Homo sapiens: one gene and its partners. The protein of the gene in region 1 interacts with the protein of each later gene in a pairwise test. Each region holds a gene or a part of one and is shown on either strand. Other genes may lie near its edges. The genes, in order: MTUS2, MAGEA8, EHHADH and KIFC3.

Region 1 (7,031 bases):
GCTGTTTTGTCCCCTGCTGTGTTCTGCTAACATTGGTGTCGATGAATGACACCAGTGAGTGATTTATCAGTGGATTATCAATGAATGATAATGTAGAAGGAACTCTTAGCTTTTCCACGATAGTATGGGAACAAGAATGGATTGCAGATATTTTCGATGAAAAATTAAGGATGGGCTCCACAAGTTTTAAAAGGATAGAACGATGCATTGAGACCAGCAAGGTGATGTTTGAGAAGTATATTTTTATGATCCCACCCATGGGTGCTAAAACCAGTTACAAATGTCTCGGATTGGGTCAGTGGAGTTTAGGACAACTTATATGGTACTTTGGTGTTTTAATTAATGATGTGGAACTAGAGGGTGATTTATATGTCCATGAGGAGGTCATTCTTAGAATGCGTGGTTAGAAGTAGAAGAGAATGGAAGGCTTGCTTTCTTATGACTCTAGATGGTGCAGTTAGAATTGAAGTATTGTGCATAGCTCTGGTCACCTTGTTTAGGAGGGACTTCAGGTTCCCTGGTGCTACACGGTGTACTTAGAGGAAAGCTGTTTGGATGGTGGGAGTTTTCAAAAGCTAATCCCACAGTTGGGAGAATCTGAGTTCTTTGACAAGGAGTAGAATAGGTTTTGGGAGGAAGGGAGCATATAGCTCTTTGTAAATACCTGAAAGGTCATCTGGTGGAAGAATTGCATCATTCTGCTGTAGAGAGGCAGAGCTTGCCAACAGAGACCCTGCCCAGATGTGTGGTGAGTTTTCTGGCCCTAGAACCAGGGGAAGCCACTTAGAAGACTCTTAAGCATCAGGTAGGTTATAAGCCTAGATCTTTACATTCCTTTCAAACTAGTACTGAACTAATTGATTTTTTTCAAGATAAAATATCAATTACTTCTAAGGCCATTATTGTTAACTTTTTGTAATAATAGATCTGAGGCATATGAAAGTTACATGTCTCACTCTGGGAAAATGCACCTCAACTAGGGGTTTGTACCATTGGTTGACCTATTTGCATATTTTATTTAATCACACACAGTCTTGTATTATGTACAAGTTTGAACTTCTGTGATCATGTTATATATTCTGTGAAAACGTTTATCTTAGTAGAAGGCCTTGGATTGAAATTTAGATCCGGACAGAAATTCGTGTTTGTGTTTACTTTGCCGCTGTCTTATGGCAGGATGAGGGAGCTGGAGTGAGGGAGACGCGTGAGGCCACATAAGGAGGAGGGAAGCTGACAGGAAACATGACTTCCTGTATATAATTTTGCCTGATAAAATTGAAGAAAGTTTTTAAATTTGCTTTTCCTGTCTTATGTGAACTTCCACGTGTTGGTTTCTGGTTTTGTTTTTCTATTCTTGTTCTTACAATAGTTTGTTTTCCTTTTGTTCTTCCTGTGTGGTGTATGATTCCATTCATGGGCAGCTTTTCTTCTTTACAGCTTCTGCTTTCTAAATGTGTCCCAGCTCTGCCACTCATGAGCTGTGTGACCTTGGGAATGTTACCTTCTCTGTGCTTTCATTTCCTTACCAGGACGTGGGAAAAAAAAAAAAGCAAGGGGATGTGAAGACCTGTCTCTGGAGGCCTGCTATAAATATTATTAAGTGTCCTAACTTAAATTAAAATTGAATATTAAAGACTTGTAATTGTGTAATTTTAATTTAAAATTAAATTTTAGGCCAGGTGCTGTGACTCATGCCTGTAATACTGGCACTTTGGGAGGCCAAGATAGGAGGATCACTTGAGGCCAGGAGTTTGAGACTAGTCTGGTCAATGTATCGAGACCCTATCTCTACAAAAAATTAAAAAATTAGCCAGATGTGGTGGTGTGCACCTGGAGTGCCAGCTGCTTGGGAGGCTGACCCAGGAGGATCTCTTGAGCCCAGGAGCTCATGGTTGTGGTGAGCTATGAACGTGCTACTGCACTCCAGCCTCGGCAACAGAATGAGATACTGTCTCAATTTTTTAAACAAATTTGTATAATGGCTGAGAAAATACTGGGCCCCTAGGAGGTTCCACCTTTCTTTCTGTCCCCTTACCAGTGAGTACCAGTTGTTTACTGACAAAGATAAAGAACATTTATGATGTAGTTCCTTAAAAATTAAAATACAACTCTTTCTAGCATGACATTGGTTTTATATTTCTTTGTCACTTTCTTGCAATCATGTTACATGTTGTGGACTTTGGTACTTTGTTTTTGTTTGTCTCTGCTGAGCAAAGTTTCTTTCTTTCTCCCAGCTTCAACAATTCAAACCGAAGAGGGCTCTTGGCTGCATATTTATACTTCTGCCCACAGAAAATTAGAGGCAGTTCCCTTCTGTGGATGGCCTATATTTATGAACTTTCTTGCCCTTCTTGACTTTGCAAGATACCCGTTTCTCATCCCAGAGAGCACAGCATTCTTTTAAACTGTGATCTTATTGATTTGCCTACATGCTTTTTGTATTTGTGCTTAGAGAACATGTGTATCTTCAAGGGAAACGCTTTTAAAATTGAATAAACAAAGACACAAGGGTTTGTTGAGAATCCCCTCTGTGTCAGGAAATGAAGACTGTGATCAGGGTATGAGCAACTTGGTTGAGGGCTATATTGGGGTCAGGCTGCACCAGGGGGTGCTACTGGCTTAGTGGAGATAAGGCTGGTAGAAGATGGAGAAGGAGAAAAAGCATGAGAGCGGGGAGGATGAGGACAGTGAGGGAGTCGTGGAAAGAACAGAAGAGCAGTGTGGTACGGAAATGCAAGCGCACATGCACATGTATGACTCTGTATTTTCCCATGATCATGCAAACATGGGGAAAGAAATGGAAAGATCTAGATGTTAATGTGTCTTGGGGTATGGGCTAGAAGAGGCAAATTTTAAAAAATGGAACAAAAACCAGCTTATAGGAAATGATCTTATGTATGTAAAAAAGTTTACATGCTTATGTATAGACGCAAAAGAAAAGAGATCTCTAAGTTGGAAACACAGAGGGCTTCAGTGAGGAGGAGCATGAGGATGGCTGCAAGGTGTCCTTGGGTTGGGTGATGGGCTGTCACGTGTTATATTATTTTGCTTTGTAACATATACATTTTATTAAATAGAGATAGGGTTTTGCTGTGTTGCCAAGGCTGACCTCAAGTGATCCTCCCACCTCAGGCTCCCAAAGCGTTGGGATTACAGGTGTGAGCTACTGTGTCCAGCCCTCATATTCTTTTTAATATATGAAACAACATATTAACAGGGATAAAGGGAAAACAAGTGGGTGGCCACGTTGCCATGTAACCTGTTTCAGGAGAAACATAACAGTAGCCTCACATGTGGTGTGCACGTGTGCTTGCACATTCTTGATGAATGAGGAGGAAAGTGTGGAAGGCTTCAAGTCTCCATTGGGGGAATTGGTGACGGGGCAGAACCTTGTTGCTGTTAAAATCCCCTATCCCCAGTGCCTAATAAAATGCACTCATAATAGTGGATGAAACAATGTCAACCTTGAATAGAATGGTTTAGTGGTGATCTGTGAGTCTACTTTAACAGAAAAGCATATCCTGTGTAGATTTTAAACTCTTTGGGGGCAGAAATAACGCTGATCTTCCTCATCATTCATTTGGACATTTATTCATTCATTTGTGCTGCAAATACATAATACGTGCCTAATATGTATGCCAGGTATTAGACAATATTTATTTTCAGTGTCTAGCAAATCTGAAAGTCTTTTTTTAATTCTTCAAAGTGAAAATACAGGATACTACAAATCCATCATTATAGGATGACCTAGTGAGGAACGCTTCCTGGAGGAAGTGGTAGTTATGTTGCATATTGAAGGATGCAAAGGACTTGTAAGATGAGGTTGGGGGAGGATTCCACATTCCATGCAGATGGAAGAGTATGCGCAAAGGCCCTGAGGCAGAGAGTAATGAACATGGTACTGTGAGGAATGAGGCCAATGTGGCTGCAGCCTGCAGAGCAGAGGGTGAGGTGGGGTTGAGGCCAGAAAGGTGTTCAGGGCCTGATCATGCAGGCCTCGAAGGCCAGAGTAAAGCATTTCCCCCAAGTTTTTATTTTGGAAAATTTCAAACCTATAGAAAAGTTGCAGATGTAATAGAATTATTACCTAGATTTTCAAATGGTTGACTTTTGCCAGTTTCTCTCTTTTACTCTTTCTCCTTCTCATATGCACACACACATACATACACGTTTTTCTTGGTCGAATCATTTGAGAATAAGTTAGAAAAATCATGACATACTACCTCTGAATTCTAAAGCATGTATATTTCAAGAACCAAATTAATCTCTGGCATAATTATAGCACGATTACACACCCAAGAAAATTAATTATAAAATACCTGTACCTTATATACAGTCCATATTTAAATCTCTAATTGTCCTAATAATATCCTTTGCTAACATGTTTTGAAAATCCAGGCTCCGCTGACATTTTTTGGGACCAGTTAGGCCAGTTATTTTGCAATACATACCTCAATTTAAATTTGCCAGATTATTGTCTCATGGTTAAATTCTGGTTGAACATTAACTACTGCATAGGTGATGTGTGGCCCTGAGAACTAACTAATATCAGGAGTCCGTAATGTCAGTTTCATTACTAGTGATGTTAAATTTGATCACGTGGTTAATGTGGTGTCTACCAGATCTCTCCATTGTAAAGATAAAATTTTCGTTTTGTAAGAAATGAAGTAGCCTGGGGGAAGATACTTTAAGCATCTATGAATATCTTGTTCCCCAACAATCTTTTACCCAATGTTTGTACCTTTGGCATCCCTTGTGTAAGATAATTATGAATGTAGCGATTGCAAAATAGTGATTTTTCAAATTCTATAATTTTTTTCTACATTCGTTGATATTCTTCTGTAAAGAAGAGCCCTTACTTCTCCTCCATCCTTTTAAATCAGTATCAGTATAGACTTGTGGATGTTTAAAATTTAGATTTAAGATCTCACATGCATTTATAATCCATTTCTAACATTAAACATTTTGATGTTTAATTTTTGTATTTGGCCAGGAGGAGCCCTGATCAGAAAGGTTTTTTGAGAAAACTATTGATTGAATGAAATAATAATATAGAAATGACAAATAAATCTGTGTTTACCACTTTTTTCTCCTGAGAAGTTCTATTTGTCAATCTAATGTGAATATATTTTTATTTCTCTCTAGGTCTCATGGACTGATTGGCTCTCATTCAGCAGGAACCTAACAGATAAGTCTTCCTGCTGTATATCAAGACAATGCTTGGTTTTCAAGCTGTTCTGAGAATGATTAAAGCAGTGTCGCAAGGTGACATTGTCAGGGGAGAACAAGCAGCTTGAGAATTTCCTCTTAATCTGATTGCAGCTTGAAGGCAGCCCATTTCCATTAAGTAGGACTGCATGGCAAGCAGCCCCACCAAAGGGTTGACAATGAGCGTCCCAGTGGCTCCTAAGAAATCATGTTACACTCAGTTGCGGGACAACAGAAATGCAGCAAGAAATAATAATGAAAGCATCTTAAGTCTGGGAGATACGAATGCCAATCAAATCATGTTGGAGGTCAGCTCCTCTCATGACGAGTCCAAGACATGTGACCTGGGAGATGAAATTGGAAATACAAATTCAAGTGAGCCAGAAAACCGTACCCATTTCCATAAGGAATTTCACCAACTTCAGGGCTTTGGGAAAGGCTCTCAGGCTGGCTCTGCCAGCCTGAAAGATTTTAGACTTTCTTCAACCATTCAGAGGGAACTCAATGAAGAGCACACAGTGGAGAGAGGCACAGATAGCCTGCAGACCACGCGGAGTATTCAGGGACCAAGTCTGTCGAGTTGGAGGAATGTGATGAGTGAGGCCAGTCTAGACGTTTTGGCTAAAAGGGATGCTGAAATTCCCCGGCATGTTCCCAAGGATAAACTGGCAAAGACCCTTGACAATGAGGAACTGAGGAGGCATTCTTTGGAAAGAGCAAGCAGCTCTGTAGCTGCAGTCGGGAGCCTGACTCCGCAGCATCCACAGCCTCTATCCCTCGACTCCCGGGAAGCACGGGGTCAGATACCTGGGGGTGGGGAGGGGCCACAGAAGACATTGCCAGACCACGCTGTCCCGGCAGCTTTCCCTGCAACTGACAGTACCTCAGAGGGAAAGAGTGTGCGTCATCCTAAACCATCTACCTCAGAAAGCAAGCAGAGCACTCCCTCAGAGACCCAAACAGTGGGGGCACATGTACTGCAGGTGTGCAGTGAGCACACATCACATTCCGCCCATCCAGAGCCTGCTCTGAATTTGACTTTGGCATCGAAGGAAATCCCAAGTAAACTGGAAGCACAATTAGGTCAGGGAAAGGGAGAGGCCAAGCTGGATCTGAAATATGTTCCTCCCAGGAGAGTTGAACAGGAGGGAAAGGCAGCCCAGGAAGGGTATCTGGGATGCCACAAGGAAGAGAATCTGTCAGCCTTGGAGGGAAGGGATCCATGTGGGGAAGCACACCCGGAAGCCACCGATGCACTTGGCCATCTGCTGAACAGTGACCTCCACCACCTTGGGGTGGGAAGAGGCAACTGTGAAGAGAAGAGAGGAGTCAACCCAGGGGAGCAGGATTCTCTCCACACCACCCCCAAACAGGGCTCTGCTTCCTTAGGAGGGGCTGATAATCAGCCCACTGGCAAAATTTCACCATGTGCAGGTGAGAAGTTGGGTGAAAGGACATCCAGCAGCTTTTCACCAGGTGACAGTCATGTGGCTTTTATTCCTAATAATCTGACTGACAGCAAGCCCTTGGATGTCATTGAGGAGGAAAGGCGGTTGGGCAGTGGGAATAAGGACAGTGTTATGGTTTTGGTGTTCAATCCTTCTGTTGGAGAGAACAAGACGGAGGTGCCTGAGCCCCTGGACCCTCAAAGTGGCCGCTCAGAAGCACGGGAAAGCAAAGAGGTCACCACATCTGTTGCTGAAAACAGGAACCTTCTAGAGAATGCAGATAAGATTGAAAGCACCTCAGCAAGAGCAGATTCAGTTCTCAATATTCCAGCACCCCTCCACCCAGAGACAACTGTGAACATGACCTACCAGCCT
Region 2 (7,680 bases), on another chromosome or scaffold:
GCCTCAGCTGGGTACTACACCCTGGATGCCCTAACAAAGGTCTACTTACAGGTCTTCTTCAGTGCTTCTCTGGGGCCTCCTGACCTCCTGGCTGGCCTGTTCTCTGCGAACCTGAAGGAGAAATTGAGAGGGCATCTCAGGGTGCAGCCTCCTGGCAAAGGCCAAGGCTCCAGGACTGACAAAAGGGCTGGTAGGGCCAGGAACTGTGGGGTTCCTGCTGTTCTGATGCCAGAGGGGCCTCTGGTATACATACAGGGGAAACACCACCTCAGCTTGACTGCTACTACTGCCTGGGCCTCTTATGCTCTGTGATTGAAGATACTGCCTCAGACCAAGACCTCACAGCCTGGTTCCTGGAGCTCCTAGAAGATAAATCGAGGGGAACTCAGGCTGCAGACTGCAAGCACAGCCCCAGCACCCCAGTGCTGTCAGGAGGGTGAGCCTGACTCTGTGAGCTCCCCACTATTTTGTGTGGATGGTCCTTTCTGTGCTCATTCAGGGCCCTCATCTTTCTCCTGGCAGGGCCTGGATCTGGCCCTTTTGCTGGCCTGAGAAACTTTCAGATCAAGAGTTTATATCCCTGATATGGAAGACAAGGATATGAAGGGACCCACATCTGGCCCCACATGCCCAAGGCCTCCTGGGAAAAAAGCAATAGCTACACAAAATGCAATGGGGCCCACGTGTCCTGTCCTAGGGTGAGAAAAAAGCAATAGCTACACAAAATACATTGGGGCCCATGTGTCCTGGGCTGACCTGAGGCCACTTCCTTAATCCAAGGACCTATCTCCAGGAGACACTGGAAGAGCAAATGAGGGGATTCCATCCACCCACCTTTCCCTGCACTTCCCATGGCTGACAGAAGGTGCAGGGTGGGGTTCGGTCCTGTGTGTTTGGTGAGTGGTGTCCTCTGAGTCCCTGACTCCTGGCAGGGCCTTGGACCCCCGCTCTGCTGACCTGAATGCAGTGCCCTCAGACCAAGGCCTTCTTCTCCCTGAGACCAATGAGTCTGGTATAACACAGGGGCCTCAGCTGATAGTCCTGCTCATGCTCTCAGGGGTGACAAAAGAGGCCGGGCAGATTTCTGTTGGGCCCCCATCTGTTTTTTGCCTGCTAGGAGAACCATCGAGGGTACCCTCAATCTTCCCTCAGTGTTGTCACCTAGACTCTTGGTAGATTCTTGGACCACTGAGTCTGTTGCCCACATGGGGGTCCCTGTTTTGTCCTGAGTTGCCCTCTGAGAACAAGGTCCTCACTTCCCTGAGATCTCAAGAGAGAAATGAGGAGCCACCACATCTGATGACCACTGGGTGGGGTGTCCAGGGGTGACACTAGGATCTGTCCCTACTTGTTCTTGAGTGGTGGGTTCTAAGGTCTTCAGGGGGTTATTCATCTTTCCCCTGATGGAGCCCGCCCTTCCTCAACCCACAACACCCTGATATGAGCAGACATCTCCCCTTACCACCAAGACCTTATCTTCCTGCGTTTCCCCAACTTCCTGCCCACAGTACAGATGAGATCTCCACTTAGGGCCACCCTTGATCGGGTTCCCCCAGAGATAATAACCAAAGTTAGCCAGACTTTGTGGGGTCCCTTCTTTCCAGGCCAGGAGTACCCCCATTCATCACAAAGTGAGCACATCTTGGGTCCTGCAGATCCTGTGACCCCGTCCCTCTGTTGAACAGGTGTGGCTCCCTCTGCTGAGCTGAGGACGCCCTTCAGACCCAGGTTGCTACCTCCCTGAGACCCAGGAGGCAGAAGTAAGGAGGCACTACATGGACAACCCTGCATGGGATTCCCACGGCTGACAGAAGTAGTAGGTTTCATGGGGTCTTTCTCTGTCTGGGTGTCATCCAGGTATTCATATTTACTCCACGACAAGGCATGGCCCTTTCCTTCCTGCTGAACCGTGGATGTGTCTTGCATGCCAAGGCCACCATCTCCTTGAGGCCCCCTACCAGAAAGTGGGGGGGCCACATCCCTTCCCCACTGTCCTGCCTTGGGTGCCCAGACCTGAGAGTGGGAGCAGGTTTCCTAGGCCATGATGGGAGGTCTGCTGAGTCCTCCTTAAGGGCTCTGGGGCACCTCTCTCCAGTGATCTGAGACTCCACTCCTCAGACCACAGCTGTCTCCTTTCTGACACCCTGAAAATGCAGCAAGGATGCGCCACATGCAGCCACAGATCCTGGGACTTCCCAAGGCTGAGATCTCCACTGATCTGGAGTCCAAGGACCCCTGAGTCCTCCCTCTTCTTCTTCTCCTTGACTCCTGGCAGGGCTGTTCACCACCCCCCTGCTGACTTGAGTTTCAGTCCCTCGGATTCCTGAGGCCAAATGTGGAGGCCCCTCAGTCTCAGACAGGTAGGGTGGGCCCCCTGTCCTGGGGTCCTGGGTCCCCTCGGGCCTCCTCATCTCCCAGCATAGCCTGGGCCCTCCCTCTGCTCCTCTTGAGTCCGTGCTCATGAAGCCCCTTTGCTGCATCAGCCCCGGATGCGGACGTCAGAATCAGCGAGCCCGGCCGCCATGCCCGGCCGCCATGCCCGGCCGCCATGCCCGGCCGCCATGCCCGGCCGCCATGCCCGGCCGCCATGCCTAGGGCTTCCCAGGGCTGACAGTAGGGGCAGAGATGTGCTCTGTGGAGCCTCAGCCCTCCCTCAGGGTCCTGCCCTTGATGCCTGGCAGAACCTGGGCCCTGCCCTCTGCTAACCAGCCCTGCTCTGGTCACACCAAGCTCTCACTCCAGATTCCCCTGGGGCTTAAGCGCAGGGCTGGCGAGGGGTGGCCCAGCCAGACAAGTCTGCCCCCTGGTGGTCCAGGGCTGGCAGCAGGGGCGGCGCTAGATTATTTTGGGTCCTATATGAGGGGTGGGGGCCTCCTCAGTCCTCCCTCAGGGTCTCACCTTGCCTCCTCACAGACCCTGAGCCCGCTTCCCTCAGCCGATCTCAAGCCGACCCCTCAGAACCAGGCCCTCGCTTCTCTCTGATCCCCGCGGCCACGTCAGTGGCGTCACATCCGTCCACCCAGGGCTCACCTGGGTGGACAACAGGGGCGGAACCGGATTCTAGTGGGGCGGGGGATGAGGGAGGAGCGGTTCAGTCATCCCTCAAGGTTCTCACTTTGAGATCTGGCAGAGCCTGGAGCTCCGTACTCTGCTGATGGTGTCTGCTTCCCTCAGACCAAGGTTCTGATTCCGAGTCCCCTGAGGTGGCAGTGGGGGGAAGGGTGTGGTGGGGGGACAAGGCTGCTGGGGTCTTTCAGGGCTGACATGAGGGTCTGAGCTGAATTATGTGGCCCCTCTATGTGGTGTGGGTGGACCCTCAGTCCTCACTCAGGAGGGTCCTCTTCTTGACTCTTGGCTCTTTTAGGAGATACTCTGTTTCTGTCACCTCTGAGCATTTGCACAGCTGCACCCCTTGCAGAGAATGGCTGCGGGTCCCAGGCCAGATTCTCCCTGTGGGTTTGCAGCACCTAAGATTGTAGTGACCTCTGGGAGAAGAGGCACACCTTCCCACGGGGGCTCTTCCCCAGCTAGAAGAGGATTTTGCAAAACTTTTGTACTAAATGATTTATTTTTACACTGAAGAAACTGAGTAGCTGCAATAAATTTGTGGAAGTCCTGAGTTTTGAAGTTACCTAACAATTCCTATTCCACTTTAGTGATTTTCATAATTTAATTCGCATTCGTATAGTAAGAAACGAATTTTAAATCTATGCCAATTGTATATGTGCATTATATTTATGTTTATATGCATAAACACATATGTATGTATATGTTTATATTATATATGTGTAATTATATGAATGTATGTGTATATATCTTTACATATATTTATACATATATGTATGTCGACTATACGTACTTATTTTATCAAACAATATCTACTCATACAATGTGTGATTCACTCATACTATTCTATTTCTAGTTCATTATATATATTTGATTAAAATAATAGTATTTTGGAAGGTAGTCCTAACCTACTCTTTGTTTCTAGTTGTTATTAGCAGAATTCTGGAGCCATGGTGTCTCAATCAATCCAATTTTCCTGGTGTCCTGATATTACCCCTGGGCTACTGGCTTCGTGTTTTGAGGTGCAGACTCGGATCCTACATTGATGTGGGGTGGTCCTTTAAAACTTTTCCTGCAACTCACCCTGTCGTCTGCAGTGGCTGCAGACCTCCTCAACCTCCCTGCCTCTCCAACTGCCCAGAACACAAGTACCAGTTCAACACAGTTTTTTCCCCAGGGTTTTCTATGTTTTGTTGTTTAGACTTTGTTGCTGATATTGTTGTTTTATTTTTCTTTTTCCCTTCTATATTTTTACACAGTTGATTTTGGGAGTAGAGCACAGCAGCCTGGGCTTGATTGTCACTTTGGCAGCTACAGGTAGGCATTAACTGTTTATTTAATTTAAGTAAGATTTACACCTTTGCTGTATTCTATTCCTCATCAGTGAACATCATATACTACTCCATTTATTTGGGAATTTTTTCTCTGAATCTGTCAGCAAACTTGTACAGTTGCTTCTGTAAATGTCTTGCATATTTTGGTTAGGCTTCTTCTTCTTTATATTTTGGATTTAAATGCTGTTGGGGATGGTATATTTTTCATTTTATGTTCTAAGTTGCTCATCTGTGACAAGTCTCTTGTATTCGCTGCAGTGGTCTTTGTATGCTGTCTTCTGAAGTCTCTTATTCATTTGAATGTTCCATGTGTCTCTTCCTTTGAATTTTCTTGATGGTCATATTGTGAAAAATATGATCTATTTCTTTTCAATCTTCATACCTCTTTTTCATCTTGATATCCATAGCTCTCTTTTTCATTTCAGCATTCACTGCAGCTGTGAACGGTAGCAGTGAAAGCATACATCAATGACTTGCTCCTGACGAGAATGGGAATGCTTCTAACATTTCACATTCAAGTATGTTTCCTGTCAGTTTTAGAAAATTAAAGTGCCTTTTAATCTTCATTTGCTAAAAATGTTAATTTGAAAATATGATAAAATTCATTTCAGAGGCTTTTTCTGTATTTTTATTCCTTGCATACGAGCTGCTTGTTCATTAGTCCACTGTTGTGTTGAATATACAATTATCTATTTAGGACATTTGCTGCAATATGAGTGAACACTTGGCTCATATGTTCTTTTTATAAAGGCTGGATGTCTTTATCTTTTTTTCCCCCCCAATGCAGGAGAAGGAGCCTTGGAGAATTCGTTGAATAATTGCCCGTATTTTGGGATTATTTGGAAGAGTTAATATGGTGATTCGTTTTCCCTGACCACTTGGGGGAACTGACCCACAAAACTGCCTGCCTTAGAACGGTAGAGGGTGGATTGAGCTTTAAATACATTTTCAGTTTGTGGACGTACCATTGGTTTTATCCATTCACCAATTGGAAAAAGTATTGATTGTCAATTTCAAATAAGCTGCTATATATGTTTTTGTGTACGTGATTTTGTGTGTATGAACCTGTTTCCAATTTTCCTTGATAAAACCTAGGAGTACAATTGCTGTGTGTAATGGTAAGTCTAAGTTTTGCTATATTAGAAATAGCCAAAGCCCCTTCTAGAGTGAATGTGTTCTTTTTCTTCTCTACCAGCAATGAAAGAGAATGCCACATCTTTTGTACAATTTGGTATTTTCAGGTTGTTGCATTGTATCAATTGTAACAGGTGGGTAGAAGAATGTTACTGCTGTTTACATTTGTATTTTTATTGAATAATTATGGTAATCATCTTTTCATATGCTTTTTTGTGATCTGTGTATCTTCATTGGTGAAGTCTTGAAATCATTTACTATTTTATTGGACTCTTCATTTTTATGTGGTTGCATGTTATAAGGTGTTTATTCATTCAGTATATGAATCCTTTATCCGACACGGGGTTTACAAGTATTTTCTCCCCATTTTTGGCTTTTTTCCCCATTCCTTTAAGTGTTTTTTTTTTTTTAGTAAACATTTTAGAGTAATTTTAAATTTACAGAAAAGTTGCGAAGACAGTTAAGAGGGTTTTCCTATACATCATGTCCAGTTTCTCCTATTATTAACATCATGCAATAATATGATACATTCTTCATAATTCATAAATCAATATTCACCTGCACATTCCTGTCATTGTTTGAGGATCCCATCTAGGATACCATGCTACTTTAGTCTAAGCTGTGATAGTTTCTCAGACTATTCTTGTTTTTGATGACTTTAACAGTTTTGGGGAGTATCGATCAGGCTATTTGTGGAATTACCCTCATTTGGTATTTGTCTGAGTTTTTTCATATATAGACTTGAGTAATGGCTTTGGGGTAGGAGACCAGAGAGGCGAAATGCCATTCTCATTACACGATATTTTAGCAACATGACTCATCGCTGTTGATGTTGACTGATGAACTGGCTGAGGTAGTGTTGTCAGGATTTCCCTCTGCAAGGTTATTACATTCCCCCCTTTCTGTATTGTGCTTTATAAAAGAAAGTCACTAAGGGCAGCCATTGGGTAGTAGGGAAGTATGGTCCACCTTCTTGGGAAGGGGTAGTATTGACATGAATGATTTGGGATTCTTCTCAATGGGAGATTTGTTTATTCTCCCCCATTATTTGTATTTATTTAACCTTCAATTTGTCTCGGCTGAACTCATGGTAATTTATTATATGTTTGGGGTTATAATTCAACACCACTTTTATTTTGCTGCTCAGATTGTTCCATCTTTGTCCATTGGAAGCTCTTTCAGTTGGCTCTGATGTCCCCTTCACGTAACTGAGCCATTACATTTGTTTGTAGCTCTGTCTTACTTTATGGTATGACAAGATGATGCAGGCTCATTTTTATATTTCCTGTTCCAGTCATAGAAGAGTCAATTTTCCATGGTTTCTGCTTCCTTTTATGGGAGAAGAGTATTGGAATGTGAGAGGTGGGTGCTTGGCATGCTCATTGTTCCTGAGGATTTGTTATTCCTAGCCACCTCAATTCTCAGAGTAAAGATATATATTTTGGTATATTAACCTGTGTATATACACATATCTATAATCAGAATTCTTAAACCCAGTCCCTGTGAGAAATAGCTTTAGAAGCCAGACAATACTGCTTCAGTACAGTTTCTTTTAACTTCGGTCCCAGAGACTAACTTCCACAGGTACTTAGGACAGCACCATATCCCCAGATACTCATTAGAGGTTGTTTCATAGATTTGTAACACAGTTATATTGTTTTGTCATATTCTATACTCCACCTTGGCATTCCTCGACCTCCTAATTTTTTCAATTTTGCATACATTGAGGTTTACTCTTTGTGCTTTAAGGTTTTATGCTTTTTGACAAATGCATAATATATTCCATTTTTTGACAGCATGTCATCAACCATGACATGACAAAATCAATCATTACAGTAGCCTAGAGAATAGTTTCACCTGTCTAATAAATTCCTTCTGCTTATCCTAGTCATACCTTTTCCCCACCCCTGATCCCTGGCCACAACAGGTATTTTTACTGTCGTTATAGTCTTGTCTTTCCAGAACGTCAAATAAATTGCATCATATACTATGTAGTCTTTTCGGACTGGCTTCTTTTACTTAGAATTAAGCATTTAAGATTTATTCATGTTTTTGTGTGCCTAGATAAGTAAATATTTTGGTTGATGAATAGTGTTCTGTTGTTGTTGGACCACAGTTTGTTTATTCATCTGTCTCTTGAAGAACA
Region 3 (4,957 bases), on another chromosome or scaffold:
ACAAACTTTATCATAACATTTCAGGGGTTATTGACTCATAAAACCTATTCATAGACCCTCTAGTTTCAAAATCTCAATCTAGGCCAAGCGTGGTGGCTCACGCCTGTAATCCCAGCACTTTGGGAGGCCGAGGCAGGTGGATCATGACGTCAGGAGATTGAGATCATCCTGGCTAACATGGTGAAACCCTGTCTCTACTGAAACATACAAAAAATTAGGCAGGCGTGGTGGCGGGCACCTGTAGTCCCAGCTACTCAGGAGGCTGAGGCAGGAGAATGGTGTGAACCTGGGAGGCAGAGCTTTCAGCGTGCTGAGATAGCGCCACTGCACTCCAGCCTGGGCGACAGAGCAAGACTCCAGTCAGAAAAAAACAAAAACAAAAACAAAAAAACAAAAAAAACCCCCTTAATCTAGAGGCCACTGTAGGGTGAAAATAAGTTGTAAGAACTCAAAATTAATTCCAGGTTTGAAGAAAAAGTTAGTGGGTTTTTTTTAACACTGATTTGAAAGCAAGTCACTTTGGAGACAAAATTACTACTTTCAGGAATCATTTTTATTGATGTCTTTAATTTCACAAACCAAATTATATAAAATTAAGTAGTACACATTTCAAACATAATAATTGTGCTCTGTACAATTCAAGGCACACTTGGATTTTTTGTTGGTTTTTTGTTTGCTTTTTAACAACGGAAAACTTATACTCCATTCAAGATTTTTCCATCAGAACTTTAATCATTTTATTTGGGTTCACAGGTGAAAATATTGTGAAAGTTCATTTACACCACAATGAAGGATAACATCTTCAGCCCCATTTATTTACTAACAACTTTATTGAGATATAATTCACATACCATATAATTCACCCACTTAAAATATACAACTCAATGGTTTTTAATATATTGTTATGTGACCATTACCACAATAAGTTTAGACCATTTTCATGAACCATAAAGAAATCCTGTACCCATTAGATGAATCCTGTACTCCCCATTCATCACCCCCAATTCTAGCCTTAGGCAACCACTAATGTACGGAAAGTATTTTTTGTAGAGACAGGGTTTTGCTATGTTGCCCAGGCTGGTCTCAAATTTCTGGCCTCAAACAATCCTCCTGCCTCAGCCTCCCAAAGTGCTGGGATTACAGGTGTGAGCCACTGTGCCTGGCCCTTTATTTCTTTTTATGGCTGAATAATATAGTCCATTGTATGGATATACCAGATTTGGTTTATCTATTCATTAGTTCATAGACATTTGGGTTGTATTCAGCTTTTGGCCATTATGAATAATTCTGCTATAAATATTTGTGTACAAGTTTTTGTATTGACCAGCCCCTTAATTTTTAACTACACAAGGCAAAAAGTAAAAAGAGAAGAACTCTTACAACAAAATCATACAAAATATGTTTTGCAACAATTTTAGATTTTTCAAGATTCAACCATTTCCATATGTAACATCACAGAGGCTTGTCATGACAGGAAAACTGGTGTCATTACTCTATCACAGAATTGGGAAATCCTAGAAGGTTAGATGTTCTCTAAGACCCTTCTTACACTAAGTTAACGACTTACTACTTTCTATTATTTCTCCATAAACAGAAGAGGAAAGACCAGAAGAGGAAAGGCTTGCCACACTAACCTAAGTTCCCTGTGCTGGTTTGAAGTACTCAGTTCCCTTACCAATTTCCAACTGTCTTTTTCCTACAACTTTAATGTTTGTTGAGTGTATGTATGATTCATAAGATTTCTGATCAATACTATGTGTGTGACATTGAAAGGAGTCAAAATGAATGTATGACTTAGCTGCATTTATCATTTATTAATTGATGACACATTTATCCAATGATAAAAGCATTTGAGAATCTCAACTTATGCCTGAGCCTCTTTCATTAGCTATTATGGTATTATATTCACACAAGTTCATGCATTGAATTTATCTGATAAGGACAGATTCAGAGGCATAGGAAGCACATTCCTAAAGATTTGACCATTAGAGTCGTTACACAGAAGATTCTAATGATTATTTATTTTGCTTTGTATTTCAGAACAATCTTACTTTGGATTTTTGATTTAATTTCACTGAAATTCAGTCAGCATTACCTGATGCTAGCATGTGAGGCATAATCTGGAAGACTGAATCACAATTTACTGCTAGGGGAGCCTGCCAAGCTTTGCCATTCTTTCAGGGGAGGGTTTCCCTGAGAAGCCAGTTTTTTTAGATAGTCACTTGGCTCCAGTTGGGGAATATCAGGGTTCTGCCTGTAATATTTCTGCAATTTCTCTAGAACTGTGGGCAACCCAACTGTGGAAGCATAGAACATGGGCCCGCCCTTGTGCCTTGGCCATCCATATCCATGTAAATAGACAACATCAATGTGCTCTGGGCTAGCAGCTATCCCTTCTCCCAAGATACGGAATGCTTCATTGATAAGTGAATATAAGCAGCGTTCAAGGATCTCATCCTGGCTAATGGTACGTGGTTCAATGTGATGGGTTTTTCTATACCGTGATAGGAATTTGGAAAGCCAGGGATCAGGTTTGTGAATCCTACCCAATGGCTTGTCATATTGATACCAACCCTTACCTGTCTTCTGGCCAAATCGTCCTAATTCACAGAGCACATCAGGAATTGGGCAGTACCTCCTATTACCCCTTTTTCGGGCAGGAGTTCCTGGAAGCAATGTAGGTCCAGTAAGACCTTGCCCCTTTCTAGATTTCCAGCCCACATCCAACCCAGCAAGATCAGACACTCTAAAAGGTCCCATTTTAAAACCAAACTCTTCCAGCACCTGATCTACCTCCTCTGGTTTGCTGCCTTCTTCTAACAAGAAATATGCCTGATTGTAGTAAGGATTCAACATTCGATTCCCCACAAATCCAAAACAGTTGCCTACAACGACTCCAATCTTTTTAATCTTTTTTGATAAGTTCATAACAGTGGCAATGGTAGTGGGGGAAGAGTATTGGCTGGGAATAACCTCTAACAACTTCATGACATGAGCTGGCGAAAAGAAGTGGGTGCCAATGACCAAGTGAGGACGATCAGTGGAAGAAGCAATCTCATCAACATCCAGGGCTGAAGTATTAGTGCACAAAAATGCTTCTGGTTTGCACACAGCTGAGAGTTCAGCAAAGACCTGCTTCTTCAGGCTCATTTCCTCAAATACTGCTTCAATGACTAAATCTACACCACCAAGCTCCTTCACAGATGAAGTTAACCTGGGTTTTGGTCCTGACCAAGGGTGGCCGCTCTGTTGCATTTTGGAGGCTTCTTTTTCCAAGACAGAGGTTATCATCTTGTTTGCAGTTGCTAGCTGGTTTTTGTCCGAGTCTACAGCAATCACAGGAATCCTGGCCCTTGCAAAAGAAATGACAATGCCTCGGCCCATTGTTCCCAAGCCTGCAGATAAAAATCAAAGGAGAAAAAGAATGATTCAGTGGTATTGGGAACTGATAAATTATTCACTGGATGGAAGGCTTATGTGACAATGTGGCATTTAAAGAGATTGAGTCAAGAAACACAAATGGATTGAGTACTAGTTAAGACTCTGCACTCTCTTAAGTGTTTCAGAGGATATAAAAATTAGTCAGATTCACACACACAAATAGAAGCTATACAAACTAATAAATGAGTCCAACGAGATTGTAGGTACACAATTGATATACAAAAATCAAGTATATTTCTATATATTAGAAATAAACAATCTGAATATAAAATTAAAAGAAACAATTCTACTTACAATAGCATCAAAAAGAATAATACACAGGAAGAAATTTAACAAAGAATAGGAGGATTTGTACACTAAAAAGTACAAAACATTGTTAATAGAAATTAAGTAAGACCAAATAAATGGAAAAACATTAAATGTTTTTGTATCAGACAACTTAATATTGTTAAGGTGGTAATACTACCCAAATTGATGTGAAGAACCAACACAATTCCTATAAAAATCCCAGCTGGTTTTTTGCAGAATCAATAAGCTGATCCTAAAATTCACATAGAAATGCAAGAAATCCAGAAGAGCCAAAACAATACTGAAAAAGAACAAAGTTGGAGGATTCACTCTTCCCAATTTCAAATTGTATGACAAAACTATTCAAGGTTGGGTGAGGTGGCTCGTGCCTGTAATCCCAGCACTTTGGGAGGCCAAGGTGAGAGGATCACTTGGAACCAGGAGTTTGAGACCAGCCCAGGCAACACAGTGAGACTCCAACTCTATAAAAAATTAAAAATTAGCCAGGGGGCCAGGTGCAATGGCTCACACTTGTAATCCCAGCACTCTGGGAGGCCGAGGTGGGCAGATCACCTGAGGTCAGGATTTCAAGACCAGCCTGACCAACATGGAGAAAACCCGTCTCTACTAAAAATACAAAATCAGCTGGGTGTGGTGGTGCATGCCTGTAATCCCCACTACTTGGGAGGCTGAGGCAGGAGAATCACTTGAACCCAGGTGGCAGAGGTTGCAGTGAGCCAAGATCGCACCATTGCACTCCAGCCTGGGCAACAAGATTGAAACTCTGTAACAACAACAACAACAACAACAACAACAACAACAACAAAAATTAGCCAGGCATGATGGTGCATGCCTATAGTCACAGCTATTTGGGAAGCTGAAGCAGGAGGATATCTTGAGCCCAGGAGTTTGAGGATTGCAGTGAGCTATGATCACACTACTGCACTCCAGCCTATGTGACAGAGTGAGACCCTGTCTCAAAAAAAAAAAAAAAAAAAAAAAAAAAAGAAGCCTATAGTATTTAAGACAGTGTAAGATAGTGGTCATTGCAAAAGGATAGACATATAGATTAGCAGAATAGAACTGATAGCCAAAAGCAAACCCACACAATTATGGCCAATTGATTTTTAACAAGAGTGCCAAGAACATTCAACAGAGAAAGTATAGTCTTTTCAACAAATGATGCTGGGACAACTGGATATCCACATGCAAAAGAATGAAGTTGGAC
Region 4 (7,031 bases), on another chromosome or scaffold:
GGTGCAGTGGGGCTGCAAACATGAATGTGTGTGGGCCCATAGTGGGTCAGGGGAGGTGGACACCCTTCAAATAGCTATCTTCACTTCCTGGCAGGAAGTGGCCACTGCAGTGACGGATGGGGAGAGTAGTCGACAGCCCAGGAAGCTCCACTAGGAAGTCCTTCAGTTACCCCCACCTCAATCTTAAAACCCCATGTTGCCTCTCCAAGCTGACTTCGCTTCTTCTGTAAATGACATTACTGTCTGAGTCTGGGACTGTAGCATGATCACCTTAAATGTCCTCAAGGTTGCTTTGCACACAGTAGGTGCTCAATAAAGACTTCTGCAGGGAATACCTGAGCTCTGTTCATTTGTTCAGTTCATGAGGGACCTATCCCTGACTGAAGCTTTCTATCCCTGACCAATGCTCTCTGCCCCCCTCCATTCCCCACACCACCTGGTGCCTGGCTCGCACCTGCCGCCTCCAGTAGCCTGCTCAGACTGTGAGGGTTTTTTTGAAGTGTTTATCTCCCTTCTGACTGGGAGTTTTCAGGCCTCATCTCTTCTGATCCAAAAGGACCCCTGGCAGATGCCTGGCACCCAGTAGGCATTATTAAATGAAGACTGAATGAATCTTTGTATCTCAACACCCATACGGTGCCTGCCACATGCTAGGCACAGAGCGCAGGCTAGTCGAATACATGAATGAGAACTTACTGTATATAGACTTCACTTGTCATTGGCCACAGTCAGGGCCCTTTTGAGTCCCTCCTCAGTGAAATGTTAATATTCAGAGCATTCACTGCTCTGCTGACAGGCCTTAGGCAGAGCAGCCTGAAGCCTAAGGGTTAAGCATGTGGTTAAGTGCAATTAGAAAATTAGATGTCTTGGAGGAAAAGGATTAGACTTACGGAGATGCTGCTGACTCGCGGTGCCTCCTCTGTGTGGGGCTAGGACCTGGCTTGTCCTCAGGCTCCAGGCTCAGCTGGGAAGGGCTCAGGTGTGGGGTCTCAGGCACAGCTGATATGCAACTTTCGCACTTCGGAGCCTCCGTATTCGGAAACAAATACCCCCAAAAGGCAGCAGGCCCCATTTCATCCTGCGAGCCCTAGGGTCTTTGGGGGACAGTGCAGTTGGAGCTGCTGCGCTGGGTAACCAGCGACCGGTGGGGCGTAGACCCTTCCAGATGGCTGGCTCTGCCCGAGGTGCAGTTGTGCTGGTCCACGGTCTTCAAGCTTATCTCCCCTTGTTCTCTCCGCAGGCTGCCTGGTGCCCCGAGGAGGCTGCTGAGCCCCAGGCCATGGTCCCCTCTCGCAGGACGTGGAACCTGGGAGCCACGCCCTCGCTGCGGGGCCTGTGGAGAGTGGGCCGGGCCCCGGAGCCCGAGCCGGGGATGGCTCGCCCCGCCCCAGCCCCAGCCAGCCCGGCCGCCCGCCCTTTCCCACACACCGGCCCGGGGAGGTTGAGAACTGGTGAGTCCGCATTTTTAAAATGCCTCTTTATTTCCCTTCCTTCCTCCAGATACCAGAGATGAGACTGAGGTTTCTCACCGGTTCCTAAGCCCAGTCAGAGCTGTCAGGTAATTACAGGGTAACCGACAGCCCAGAGCCAGGCGGGCGTGGAGCCGGAGCGTCAGTCTCGCCGGGCGCTCCTTCCCTGCGCCCCTGTCTGGAAAAGAGGAGACCTGGAAGCCGGGTTAAACTTTAACACGGGTCGGGCACAGAGCAGGGGGAATCAGCTGCATTCCCTCTGGCCAAGCTGGTCAGAGCTCTGCGGGCTGCCGTCCTTGGCCAAGAGCGTGTGGGCTAGCTCCGGTCTCTGCCCAGGCTGGTAAACAAGGTAGGTGAAGTGGCTGCCTGGGCACCAAGCGCCGCTGACACTTGATCCTGCCTGGGCTGGCCCCTGGACGGCGTTGGGAGTGGACCGAGGCTGCTCGGGAACGTGGCCTGGCGGGGCTTGGGGTCCATGTGCTCATTTCAGGTGCTTCTGTAGAGACCCTGACAGCAGGTGGGCAGAGGTCCCAGAGTCTTGGCCCCCACTGTACCCCCCGGGGAGCTGTCAGTGCCAGCTCGCCTTTCTGGGTCATGTCCCCCGGTGCTGCGAAAGTCAAGAAGTGAGCGGCTTCTCTGATTCAGGGCCGGGACTGGATTGGCGGGGCCGCGGAGCTGTCCATGACCCTCTCCCGAGGCGTGGGCAGGTCGCCCTGGTAGTGTGGGGGAGAGAGGGCTCTCCAGGCAAGGTGCCTTCAGGGGTCTGCTCCCTGTCCCTCGTGACCTACAGGAACAGGGTCTAGACTGCCAGCCTGTGAGAGCTAGCAGAGTCCCTCTGGGCCATCAGGTCCAAGCCCCTTGGTGCACAGAAGGGGAAACTGAGGCCCAGAGAGGGCACACAGCAAACTCCTGTTCACCCCTCTCTCCCACCACATTTGTGCTGTCAGTGGCAGCTGGACTGATGCCTTCCGAGGTCTCTCTGCTTCTATGGTTGTCTGGGGCTGGCTGCTCCCAAGCAGCACAGCCAGGCTGGGGATGACCCAGGGGCCTGGGGAAAAGCCTGGGCTTTTGGGCCAGGTAGCCCAGTTGTCTGAAAGGGGCAGAGGATGGCCTCTACCCCATAAGGTTGTCCTAAGTATTACAAATGTAATATGAATGAGTATTGCTTTTCCGGTAAAACAAAAGCATTTTCCCTTAGAAAACTTAAAACACATAGAAAAATATCAAAAAGGAAATAAAAATCACAAGTTAGTCACTGAACATTTTATGTAGTGCCTTCTAGTCGTGTGTGTCTGTGTGTGTGTGTGCATGCATATAGGTCTTTGAAATATTGTGTTATCTCAGCTTTCTAACCTGAAGGAAAAAATTGGGTATTATGAAGATTATATGACCATACAGACTTTTATCCACTTAAAAAATTTAAGACAAAGGTCAGATGAAATCCTGTGTGTGAAATGCAAGCGCCGTGCCTGCCACTGGGCCTCAGCCAGCTCAGCTGCCCCAGGCCCCTCTGAGTCCCCCGACCAACCCCCATATTGCCACCCTGAGAATTGGCTGGCAGAGGGTTGATTAGCACATGGGATTTGAATCCTGGCTCCCTGTGACCCTGGGCACATTGTTAACCCTTCCAGGCTTCCGGTTCTTTGCCTGTCAGGTGGGGAGAATGCCCCCCACCTCCCTGGGGAGTTTTGAGGAGCTGATGGCTACTGTAGTCCTATTGGCCTGTACTGTGGGCCCTTTCTGTGTGCCTGGCACTACATGGGCACCACGTGTATTTCATCCCATTTGATCCTTATCACAGGGCTGTGAAGTTGTCCCCATTTTATTGACAAGCAAACTGAGGACCAAGAAGGTGTGTAAAGGCTGGGTGCTGTGGCTCACGCCTGTAATCCTAGCACTTTGGGAGGCCAAGGCGGGCAGATCACTTGAGGTTAGGAGTTCAAGACCAGCCTGGCCAACATGGTGAAACTCTGTGTCTGCTAAAAATACAAAAATTAGTTGGGCTGGTGGTGCGCACCTGTAATCCCAGCTACTCGGGAGGCTGAGGTATAAGAATTGCTTGAACCCGGGAGGTGGAGGTTGCAGTGAGCCAAGATCGCACCACTGCACTCCAGCCTGGGCAACAGAGAGAGGCCCTGTCTCAAAAAAAAAAAAAAAAAAAAAAAAAAACAAAAAAGCCCAAAAAAACAGAATGTGTGTAAGGCCTGAAAAGCACTTGGCCCAGTGGCTGGCACTCGGGATATTGTTACGCCCCAGGGTAGTGGCTCTGCAGTGTGCCTCATGACTCGTGAGGCTGGCCCCCATCCCACCCTGTTCAGCCCTGCAGGTGGAGGTGGGTGGCTGGGGCATTGCTGCCACAGCCCGCCCTCTCTCCCATGGGTGAGGGAGGCGGTGTGTCAGAGGCACAAGGGGATGCACGTTAGCTGGTTCTGAATACGCTTGGGGAGGCAACGGAGGCTGGGCCACCTGGTTTGGATTTTGTCTTAATGAAGTCAGGGAAGAAATTGCCACCTAGAGGCAGCCGGGGTAATAAAGCCATAGCCCCTGTGCAAGTCCTCAAAGCTTCATGCAGGCTGGCTGGCAATGGCTTCCTTCCACTTCCCTGCTGAGCAGATGCCTGCCCCAAAAGCCACTGTGGGGATAGGGGAGCCTCCGGTGGGGTATTGGGCCCCTTCCAGAAGAGAATCTTTGGGCGGCTTTTGGTAAGGAAGGAGCGTAGCCACTGCCCCGAGCCAGGCCTTCCCCTCTGCAGGGCAGGCGTTTTTTGGGTGTGTGAGCCCCTCCTGGCCACATCTGGACCAGCCAGGGATGTGTGAAAGCTGAGCTCAGCTGCGGCCCTGGCCAGTGGTCCATGGCTAGCAGTCTTTGGCCAGTGGTCGGAGTGTCTCACCTATCTCTCTGTCCTGGGACAGGGCGTGGAAAAGATACCCCAGTCTGCGGTGACGAGGACTCCAGTGCCCGAAGTGCAGCTCGCCCAGCCCTAGCTCAGTGCCGAGCCCTTAGCGTGGACTGGGCTGGCCCCGGAAGCCCCCACGGGCTCTACCTGACCCTGCAGGTAAGCACTGGGGCCTTCCAGGCTGCATGTGCCTTGGCTCTCTGAGCTCCAGTGGCTGGGTTCCTGCCAGGCTTCTGGGGGTAGGAAGCACCTGGGGAGAGCCGGGGACCCACCTCGCACCTCTCTGTTGGGCCCCTCATGACCCCTCTGCCTGGGAGCCTGCTTTATTAAGTCAGACGGGAAATCTCATAGGAGCTGACAGGAGCTTTTCAGCCATGCCCTGGCTGAGGTGTTAAAATGGGAAGCATGGGGCCTTAGCTGAGATGGGCAGAGCTTGGAGAAGGTATTGGGAAAACAGGCAGGTTTGGGGTGGTTGATTATTCTGAAACATGGTTATGTGAGTATTTCCTTGTATTTCCTTGGGAATATTTCCTTGTTTGAAGTGAGAATTCAAAGCTAGATGGAGGATTCACTAAAACTTGGGGTCTTCTCCCTTGCAGTTATCACCAAGTGACTTTAAAATGACAAAGTAAGGCTAGGCGCGGTGGCTCAGGCCTGTAATCTCACCACTTTGGGAGGCTGAGATAGGAGGATCGCTTGAGCCCAGGAGTTCACGACCAGCCTGGACAATATAGTGAGACCCTATCTCTACAAAAAGAAAAATAAAAAATTAGCTGGGCATGGTGGTTCCTATAGTCCCAGCTACTCAGGAGGCTGGGGTGGGAGGATCGCTTGAGCCCAGGAGGTTGAGGCTGCAGTGATTGCACCACTGCACTCCAGCCTGCGTGACAGAGTGAGACCCTGTCTCAAAAAAAAAAAAAGAAAAGAAAAAAGATAAACTTTACATATGTATGTATATTTGGCTATAGAAATAATACATAACGATAATAGTAATAAGAGCTACTGTTTATCAAACATGGACTCTGTGCCAGGCATTAAAAGATCTCATGTTAGTCCTCATCATACTCATAACAATCTCAGGATACAGTATTTGATCTGAGCTTTATAGATGAGGATGTGGAGGCTCAGAGAGGTTAAGTTACTCGCTGCTGGTCACATATTCGACCATTCAACACAACTAGCCTTGTAACAGGGCAGAGATACAGTTATCCAGAAACTGCCTCTCTTAGTCCTCTATCTTTGAGAAATCCACTATTAAGTATTTGGTGTTTATTTGTTTATCTTTCCTATATAGAACCACTTAATTAAATTTATATGATTTTTATTTTTGAGATGGAGTCTCGTTCACTCTGTTGCCCAGGCTGGAGTGCAGTGGCGTGATCTTGGCTGTAATATCCGCCTCCCGGGTTCAAGTGATTCTCCTACCTCAGCCTCCTGAGTAGCTGGGATTACAGGTGTGCATCATCACACCTGGCTAATTTTTATATTTTTAGTAGAGATAAGGTTTCACCATTTCACCATGTTGGCCAGGCTGGTCTTGAACTCTTTTTTTGTTTTTTTTTTTTGAGACAGAGTCTCGCTCTGTCGCCCAGGCTGGAGTGCAATGGCATGATCTCAGCTCACTGCAGCCTCCGCCTCCCGGATTCCAGTGATTCTCCTGTCTCAGCCTCCCAAGTAGCTGGGATTACAGGCGTGTGCCACCGTGCCCAGCTAATGTTTGTATTTTTAGTAGAGACAGGGTTTCATCATGTTGGCCAGGCTGGTCTTGAACTCCTAACCTCGAGTGATCTGCCCGCCCCAGCCTCCCAAAGTGCTGGGATTACAGGTGTGAGCCAGTGCACCCAGCCATATTTATATGATTTTTTTTTTTTTGAGACAGAGTCTCACTCTGTTGCCCAGGTTGGAGTGCAGTGGCATGATTGCAGCCCACTGCAACCTTCACCTCCCAGGTTCAAGCGATTCTCATGCCTCAGCCTCCCGAATAGCTGGACTACAGGCATGTGCCACCACACCTGGCTAATTTTTGTATTTTTAGTAGAGATGGGGTTTCACCATGTTGGCCAGGCTGGTCTTGAACTCCTTACCTCAAGTGATCTACCCGCCTCAACCTCCCAAAGTGCTGGGATTACAGGCATGAGCCACAGTTCCCAGTGCATATTTATATGATTTTTATTATTTATTTTACATGTTATTCTGTCACTAGCTCTTTCCCTCAAGTAAGTCCTGGTAATCTCTTCATGCTCATCAACACATAGAGAACTACCCTTTTTTTTTTTTTTTTTTTTTTTTTTTGAGCAAGGTCTGGCTCTGTTGCCCAGGCTGGAATGCAGTGGTAGAATCTCACTGCAACCTCCAGCCAAGTCATCTCACCTCAGCCTCCTGAGTAGCTGGGACTACTGGCATGTGCCACCACACCTGGCTAATTTTTGTAATTTTTGTAGAGACGGAGGTTTCATCATGTTGCCCAGGCTGGTCCCGAACTTGTGGGCTCTGCCTTGGCTTCCCAAAGTGCTGGGATTACAGATGTGAGCCATTACGCCCGGCCCTACCTCTTTCTTTTACACGGCTGCGTAATAGTCTACTTCAGGGCTTACCATAAATTATTTATAACAGATCCTCTGTATTGTTTCTGATTGCAGTGAGCTCCTTAAACAAATATCTGTGCT

What was found.
Region 2: the proteins of MTUS2 (region 1) and MAGEA8 interact in binary tests that used the Homo sapiens proteins (3 or more experiments, as listed by UniProt).
Region 3: the proteins of MTUS2 (region 1) and EHHADH interact in binary tests that used the Homo sapiens proteins (3 or more experiments, as listed by UniProt).
Region 4: the proteins of MTUS2 (region 1) and KIFC3 interact in binary tests that used the Homo sapiens proteins (3 or more experiments, as listed by UniProt).

Annotation. Positions count from the first base shown.
Region 1 is NC_000013.11:29,019,312-29,026,342, forward strand, and holds part of MTUS2 (microtubule-associated tumor suppressor candidate 2), read left to right. Parts: intron 1-5,145; 5' UTR 5,146-5,357; coding exon of another isoform or gene 5,358-5,387; coding exon 5,388-7,031. UniProt on the Homo sapiens protein: Binds microtubules. Together with MAPRE1 may target the microtubule depolymerase KIF2C to the plus-end of microtubules. May regulate the dynamics of microtubules at their growing distal tip.
Region 2 is NC_000023.11:149,876,504-149,884,183, reverse strand, and holds the start of MAGEA8 (melanoma-associated antigen 8), read right to left. Parts: upstream 3,002-7,680; 5' UTR 2,899-3,001; intron 1,817-2,898; exon of another isoform or gene 1,686-1,816; intron 1,114-1,685; exon of another isoform or gene 835-1,113; intron 363-834; exon of another isoform or gene 112-362; 5' UTR 50-111; intron 1-49. UniProt on the Homo sapiens protein: Not known, though may play a role in embryonal development and tumor transformation or aspects of tumor progression.
Region 3 is NC_000003.12:185,190,093-185,195,049, forward strand, and holds the end of EHHADH (peroxisomal bifunctional enzyme), read right to left. Parts: intron 3,396-4,957; coding exon 2,134-3,395; 3' UTR 532-2,133; downstream 1-531. UniProt on the Homo sapiens protein: Peroxisomal trifunctional enzyme possessing 2-enoyl-CoA hydratase, 3-hydroxyacyl-CoA dehydrogenase, and delta 3, delta 2-enoyl-CoA isomerase activities. Catalyzes two of the four reactions of the long chain fatty acids peroxisomal beta-oxidation pathway.
Region 4 is NC_000016.10:57,792,492-57,799,522, reverse strand, and holds part of KIFC3 (kinesin-like protein KIFC3), read left to right. Parts: intron 1-1,240; coding exon of another isoform or gene 1,241-1,279; coding exon 1,280-1,451; exon of another isoform or gene 1,452-1,818; intron 1,819-4,381; coding exon 4,382-4,524; intron 4,525-7,031. UniProt on the Homo sapiens protein: Minus-end microtubule-dependent motor protein. Involved in apically targeted transport. Required for zonula adherens maintenance.